Linked DNA regions of Homo sapiens: region 2 is linked to region 1. The links come from fine-mapping of genetic effects on gene expression. A gene starts in region 1. The other region holds a variant in brackets. All regions are shown on one strand. Distances are between the middles of the regions. Region 1 holds the start of ZEB2-AS1 (ZEB2 antisense RNA 1). Region 2 overlaps ARHGAP15 (Rho GTPase activating protein 15).

The links. PIP is the estimated chance that this variant, and not a neighbour inherited with it, causes the effect.
Region 2: its variant is the best candidate, but not a certain one, in a credible set for the expression of ZEB2-AS1 in tibial nerve (GTEx, PIP 0.59).

The regions. Positions count from the first base shown.
Region 1 is chr2:144,518,230-144,521,146 of GRCh38, forward strand. ZEB2-AS1 (ZEB2 antisense RNA 1) reads left to right here and starts at 1,385. Exons shown (of 4, transcript NR_040248.2): 1 at 1,385-1,445; 2 at 1,730-1,881; 3 at 1,986-2,056; 4 at 2,525-2,670. It overlaps ZEB2 (zinc finger E-box binding homeobox 2), which reads right to left and starts at 1,890. Exons shown (of 10, transcript NM_014795.4): 1 at 1,710-1,890.
Region 2 is chr2:143,667,206-143,670,122 of GRCh38, forward strand. All of the region lies in intron 12 of ARHGAP15 (Rho GTPase activating protein 15), which reads left to right. All of the region lies in intron 4 of ARHGAP15-AS1 (ARHGAP15 antisense RNA 1), which reads right to left. Among named protein-coding and RNA genes, the nearest start is that of ARHGAP15-AS1, 110 kb to the right of the region's middle. The variant AAAATT/A (reference allele first, on the strand shown) is at 1,705.

The sequences.
Region 1 (2,917 bases):
TACGGCAATACTTTTAAGCTCTACTAAATGATCGTATCCTTTCTGGCTTCGAAACTTTTGTACCTAAAAATCGAGAGAGGCGCTGCATTTTTTCAGTTGAAACTGTCAAAACTTGGAGAAGGGGGACCTCGGAGGCAGGCAGGAGAGGAGGAGAATCCTGAAAACTCGGTGGAGGTTGGGAAGATGCTGTGCCTCGAGGATTAGTTTAAACAGGGGGCTATAAAAGATGTAACAGATGCAAACTGTAACACAAGGGCCATTAACCCTTTCTCTGCCGGGCACACTCAGTCCCCACGCCCCACACCTATTGTCTCCTGTGCTAGAAGCTTTGCAGAAAACCTGGAAAGTGAGTATCAGTTTCCACACATTTGCTGAGAGGGGTGAAGGGAGGGGGGCAGAGAGAAGGGGAAGTGGATATTTTAGAAAGCACCTTAAATTTACCTAGGCATACATAGTAGGAGACTTTTAAGTTTGACATATTTTATCATTTCTTTCCTTGTCCTATTGATTTGAAATTGTTAGGGGAAATCCTGAAATAAAGAAATGGTCACACAAGTGTCTGGGATGAAACAGCTGGCCTGTCTATATTCATCCTGAGACACACGACTGCATATAAATACATGTTTAATAAAGTAAGTTGCTAGTTTTATGGGCATGTGTGTGTGTGAGAGAGAGAGACAGGGCATTTGTGCTGTAAACTTTATCTTTGCCTGTTACTCCTAAGTCTGGAGTTAGTAATCTTGCCTTCATCATTACAGGGGGAGCATGTAAAATATATCAGTAGGTGGGAGATAAACACATTCATGTTAGCCGGGCTCATCACTGTTCCTGGGAACTCCTGCTATCTCTCTCTCGACTTTTCAGTGCCAAAGTATGGAATGGGATATATGTGTGTATGTGTCTTCTATTAAATCCATGTCTATATTACTTTGCCACTAAAAATACAATTTTAAAAGTTATCCTAATTTAAAACCCTGATATCCTGACAGCAGTTTTCTTCCCAGCTGTAGTGCCCCCCCCTCCACTTTGGTAAACGACTCAAGTTCCATGAGGACTTTCACTTCTTTATTTATAATCACAGAAGTGAGGTGTTACTTCACACACATACACACACAAAGAATGAAATAAAGAAATGAAACTCGCTAAGCAGACAAAAACAGACAACTTTCTGCTTAGAAAACAGCCTTCTCGGTGGGAGAGGATGAACTGCCATGTCTAAGAGAAAGACTTGCCCCCGAATTTGTAGGTCTGTAACTGACCAAGTTTTGTAATTATTAACAGGTATTTGCCAAGTCCTAATTGCTGAATATAATGAATTGGAACTAGATGCGAAAATAGAGCAGGACCTCTCCCCTTGATGAGTTTTTATTCCAGCCATATAATTCTCAATAAAACTTTTCCTGGGCTGGATAGCAAAGGACACCTTTGGTTACCTGAATGAACAGGTACAGGGGAAATTATTTGGGGGAGGGAAAAAGGAGAGAAAAGCAAGGAGAGAGAGTGTGAGTGTAAGAGAAAGCGAAGAAGCCACTCTTGAGAAAAGCTTGCCATAAAGGAGCTAAACCCACCTGAAATTCCTACCCACGGACACCCCTTCTCACTTCAGACTCACATCCCCACTCAAAATGAGAAAATTAGAAAAGGAGGATGGAGGACGAGCACACCAAAAAGGGATAAAAAGAGAGAAAAGGGGAGGAAAAAAAACCTACCTGCGAAGTCTTGTTTGTAGTTTTGGCCAGAAATGGTGAGAAGAAAAAGCATGAAGAAGCCGCGAAGTGTGGGGGAGAAAAAGGTGGAAGCGAAGAAACAGCTCCCGGAGCAAACTGTACAAAAACCTCGCCAAGAGTGTCGGGAGGCAGGACCGTTATTCCTGCAGAGCAGGTTAGAACTGATCTCTTTCGGCCACTCCAGGAAACACAAACCTGGGGACGGACTGACGTGTTACGCCTCTTCTAATGACATTTTTTTCTTTTTCTTTTCTGTAGGAGAGAGACGAGAGACCCTGAAACACGCGCCACCTATCTTTGTGGGGAGGGATAATTGAAGCGCCCTGAGCGTGAGCATCATGTGAAAACGTGATCGCCAAGTTTCTCTCTGGGAAAGGATCTGGGATAGATTATACCTTGAAGTCTCCGCAAACGCTTTAGTGGAAGAAATGAAATTCCACCTCCCTCCCTTCCTCCTCTCCCTCCCTTTCGCCTTCGCCTCCCTCCCCCCTCCCTCCCTTCTCCCCCCCTCCACCCCCCCCTCCCCGCCCGTCAAGCCTTTGGCATCATTATCCTCATCACTAAATCCTACAGAGTACAGGGCGGAAAACGGTGCACACCATTCACAGAACTGGAGAACTCCAAGGGGCGAAAGTTAAAGGGAAAGATCCCGGGTCCTCAATCCAGATAGTCTCTTCTTATACAGATATCTCTAATGACCAGATTTGAGATGCACATCAAATTGTGTAGGTATCTCAGTACAGCTTCTGGAACAAAGTTCTCTGCCCTTTCTCTTATTGTTATTTTTTTCTTTTTAGGTACCAGAGCCAGAAAAAAAAATGCTGCATGGGAGCTGCATCTTAGGGCATGTGTATTAGGGTGTGTGCATGATGAATTTCTGGACTGGATCCCAATATTAAAAAGTAGTTTGGCATTTTAATAAAGGGTCTCTAAGTAAATTAAAATAGAACACTCGGTTGGCCGATCTCTGAATCTCTCTACACCTCGGGGAGACCTCACTACAAAGTAAGGGAGAGTGTGTAGGGAGGCAGGAGGAGAAACGAGAAAGGCCATAGAGAAACTTAGCAGGGAAGGGAGAGCATGATATTAAACGGCATGGGGTCTAAGTTTTGGAGTATATATTTTTTGATATTACAATTAAAGTAAGATTAAAAAGAAAAGACTCCACCTTTGCTCTGAAGGGATTGGTT
Region 2 (2,917 bases), 850 kb before region 1:
GTGGCACATATACACCATGGAATACTATGCAGCCATAAAAAATGATGAGTTCATGTGGTTTGTAGGGACATGGATGAAATTGGAAATCATCATTCTCAGTAAACTATCTCAAGAACAAAAAACCAAACACCGCATATTCTCACTCATAGGTGGGAATTGAACAATGAGATCACATGGACACAGGAAGGGGAATATCACACTCTGGGGACTGTGGTGGGGTCGGGGGAGGGGGGAGAGATAGCATTGGGAGATATACCTAATGCTAGATGACGAGTTAGTGGGTGCAGCGCACCAGCATGGCACATGTATACACATGTAACTAACCTGAACAATGTGCACATGTACCCTAAAACTTAAAGTATAATTTAAAAAAAATTAAAAAAAAAAAAAAAAAAAAAGAAAAGAAGTGCTCAAGGGAAGTTTGTTAATTTAATCTTTGGGAAAATGCAATTTATCATAATTTGTGATAACTTATTATAAAATTTCAGAAAAAAAAATACACTGATGGCAGGGCACGGTGGCTCCCACCTGTAATCCCAGCACTTCAGGAAGCCAAGGTGGATTGCTTGAGCTCAGGAGTTTGAAACCAGCCTAGGCAACGTGGTGAAACTCTCTCTACCAAAAATACAAAAATTAGCCAGGCTTGGTGGCATGTGCCTGTTGTGCCATCTACTCAGGAAGCTGAGATGGAAGGATCACCTGAACCCAGGAAGTTGAGGCTGCAGCGAGCTATGTTTGCACCACTGCACTCCAGCCTGGGTGACAGAGCAAGACCCTGTCTCAAAAAATACATATATAAAAATATATTTTTTAAAAATACATATTTTTAAAAAGAGAAACATTTAAAAAAAAAAGTTGAAGGAGAAAGGGTTGAAGCATGTTTTGTAGATTTAGTAATTTTAGAATGGGAACTAGGTAACACTGTTCGCAAATCTGAAATGAAGTCTAAGTTTCAAATCTCATAGGATAGAAAGTACTGTGTAGATATTCAGATTTATCTGGATCTTGACAATATGTTGATGTAACACTCCCATCACTTCCTAAAGGGTTACCTTACTGCCTTGATTCTATTTTCTTTTTTTTTTTTTCTTTTTTGATCATTGCATTGTTTTCAGCATACAGAGCAAAGTTAGGCGGCAGCTTTCAGCTCTGAATGGCTAATGAATTGTTCATCTGTGTGTAGAATCTCCCTGGTGCAAGCTCTGTGTGAGTCTCTATTCCTCCCTATTCAAAGATGACATCGTCAATTGTGGTGATCCTACCCATGTATGCAGATCCAGCTGAAAATACAAATGAGAGACTAGCATTCCTTTCTAAAACCCATGCTTTAAACTATGTCCTTTGTTTGCAGGTGCAATTAGCTAGTTTGACAAGCCTGTTATCTGACTCTTCTTTTTTATACAGCCTACATGACCATCTCAGTCTAAATAAGTCACCCCATTTCTTTTTCTGCAGTTCATCTGTCAGTTATTTTCTTGTCTTAGAGAAGCCTGAAGTTCTGATATACTTGTGGTTCAAATCACTCTTATTGCAATCCTTTGATGAGTAATTTCAGCTTTCCATCTGAAGCTAAATACATAGACAATTCCAATGAAACTCTTCAAGAATTCTCCATAAAATCAAGGATCTAGGCCACAAAATTATTCTGATTTATACCACAAAATTTGGTTCCAATAATATTTCCCAAAGAGGAAGGATGGGAGA[AAAATT/A]AAATTCATTTAGAGGTAAAATATAATTTAAAAGAAATAGTCTTCTCTCTATAAAAGAATCAGAATTTTAATTGTTTTTTAACATTGGAATTGGTAACCAGGTTGAAAGTCTAAACTATCAGGCCTCAGACCCCTGAGCTTAAACCTTAAAACCTTAATTATAGCTAACATTGATTGAGCATTTATGGACCAGGTGCTAATCTAAGCACACTAAAAGTATCCACTTAAACTTCACAGCAACCCTAGGAGATAGATAGTATAATTGTCTCTATTTTTCAGATAAGAAAATTTCAGGTATAGAAAACTTATTTACCTTATTCAGCTGCCCAGTAGAAAGGCTTGTGTTCAAACTTCACCTGTGTAATGTCAAAGCCAGCTTCCTTACCCACTGTACTATATTACCTCTCCCATGTCTCCTATTTTGAGGCATAGTTGGACATGAATCACTTACCTATACCAAGATGGAACCCAGTGAGGAAAGCACAAACTTAGATCTAATGCCTAGAACAGTGCCTAGAGTACAGCAGATTGAATGAATTAATGAATGAACAAACTAAACCTCCCATGTTATGGCTCAGACCTTTGAAGGACAGCCACAAGTATAGGTACCATGTGGAAATTTTAAAAGGTAATGATAGCAACAGCCATGGTTTGTTGAACTACATTTCCTAGTTCACAGATGACACCTTCTAGCTGTGTCCCCACAATGCTGGAAGGGGCAAGGCAGCTCTCTGGGGCCTCTTTCATAAAGGCACTAATCCCATTACCTAATTAGGTTTCAACATACGAATTTTGAGGAAACACAAACATTCAGATCCTAGAAAATATATTTTATAATCCAGCAAAACACTTGCCTCAGGGTATTCTGCTAGTCTGGGAAAATGAGAGTTCTCAGACCTGAAGGACAGGGAGATGGCCACAGGGCTCCAGTATGGAGGGAGCCAGGATATATCTGATCTGAGAACACCAAAATGGAGGCAAAAGGGCACCAAGTGGAAGTCCAGTGTATCATGCTGAAGTTAAGTTTAGGCTGACACAAGCAACAAGGGTAGCATCCTGTTCAAGCTGTGTGTGCAAGGCATGTAGACTAGAGTTTCTTAAATGCCCATTAGTGCTTAAGGTAAAGGCAGACTTCAGACACCAGGGAGGAATTGAGCCCCAGTGTGGCAGTCCATGAATTACCATGGAATAGACAGAAGAGGCTTGAA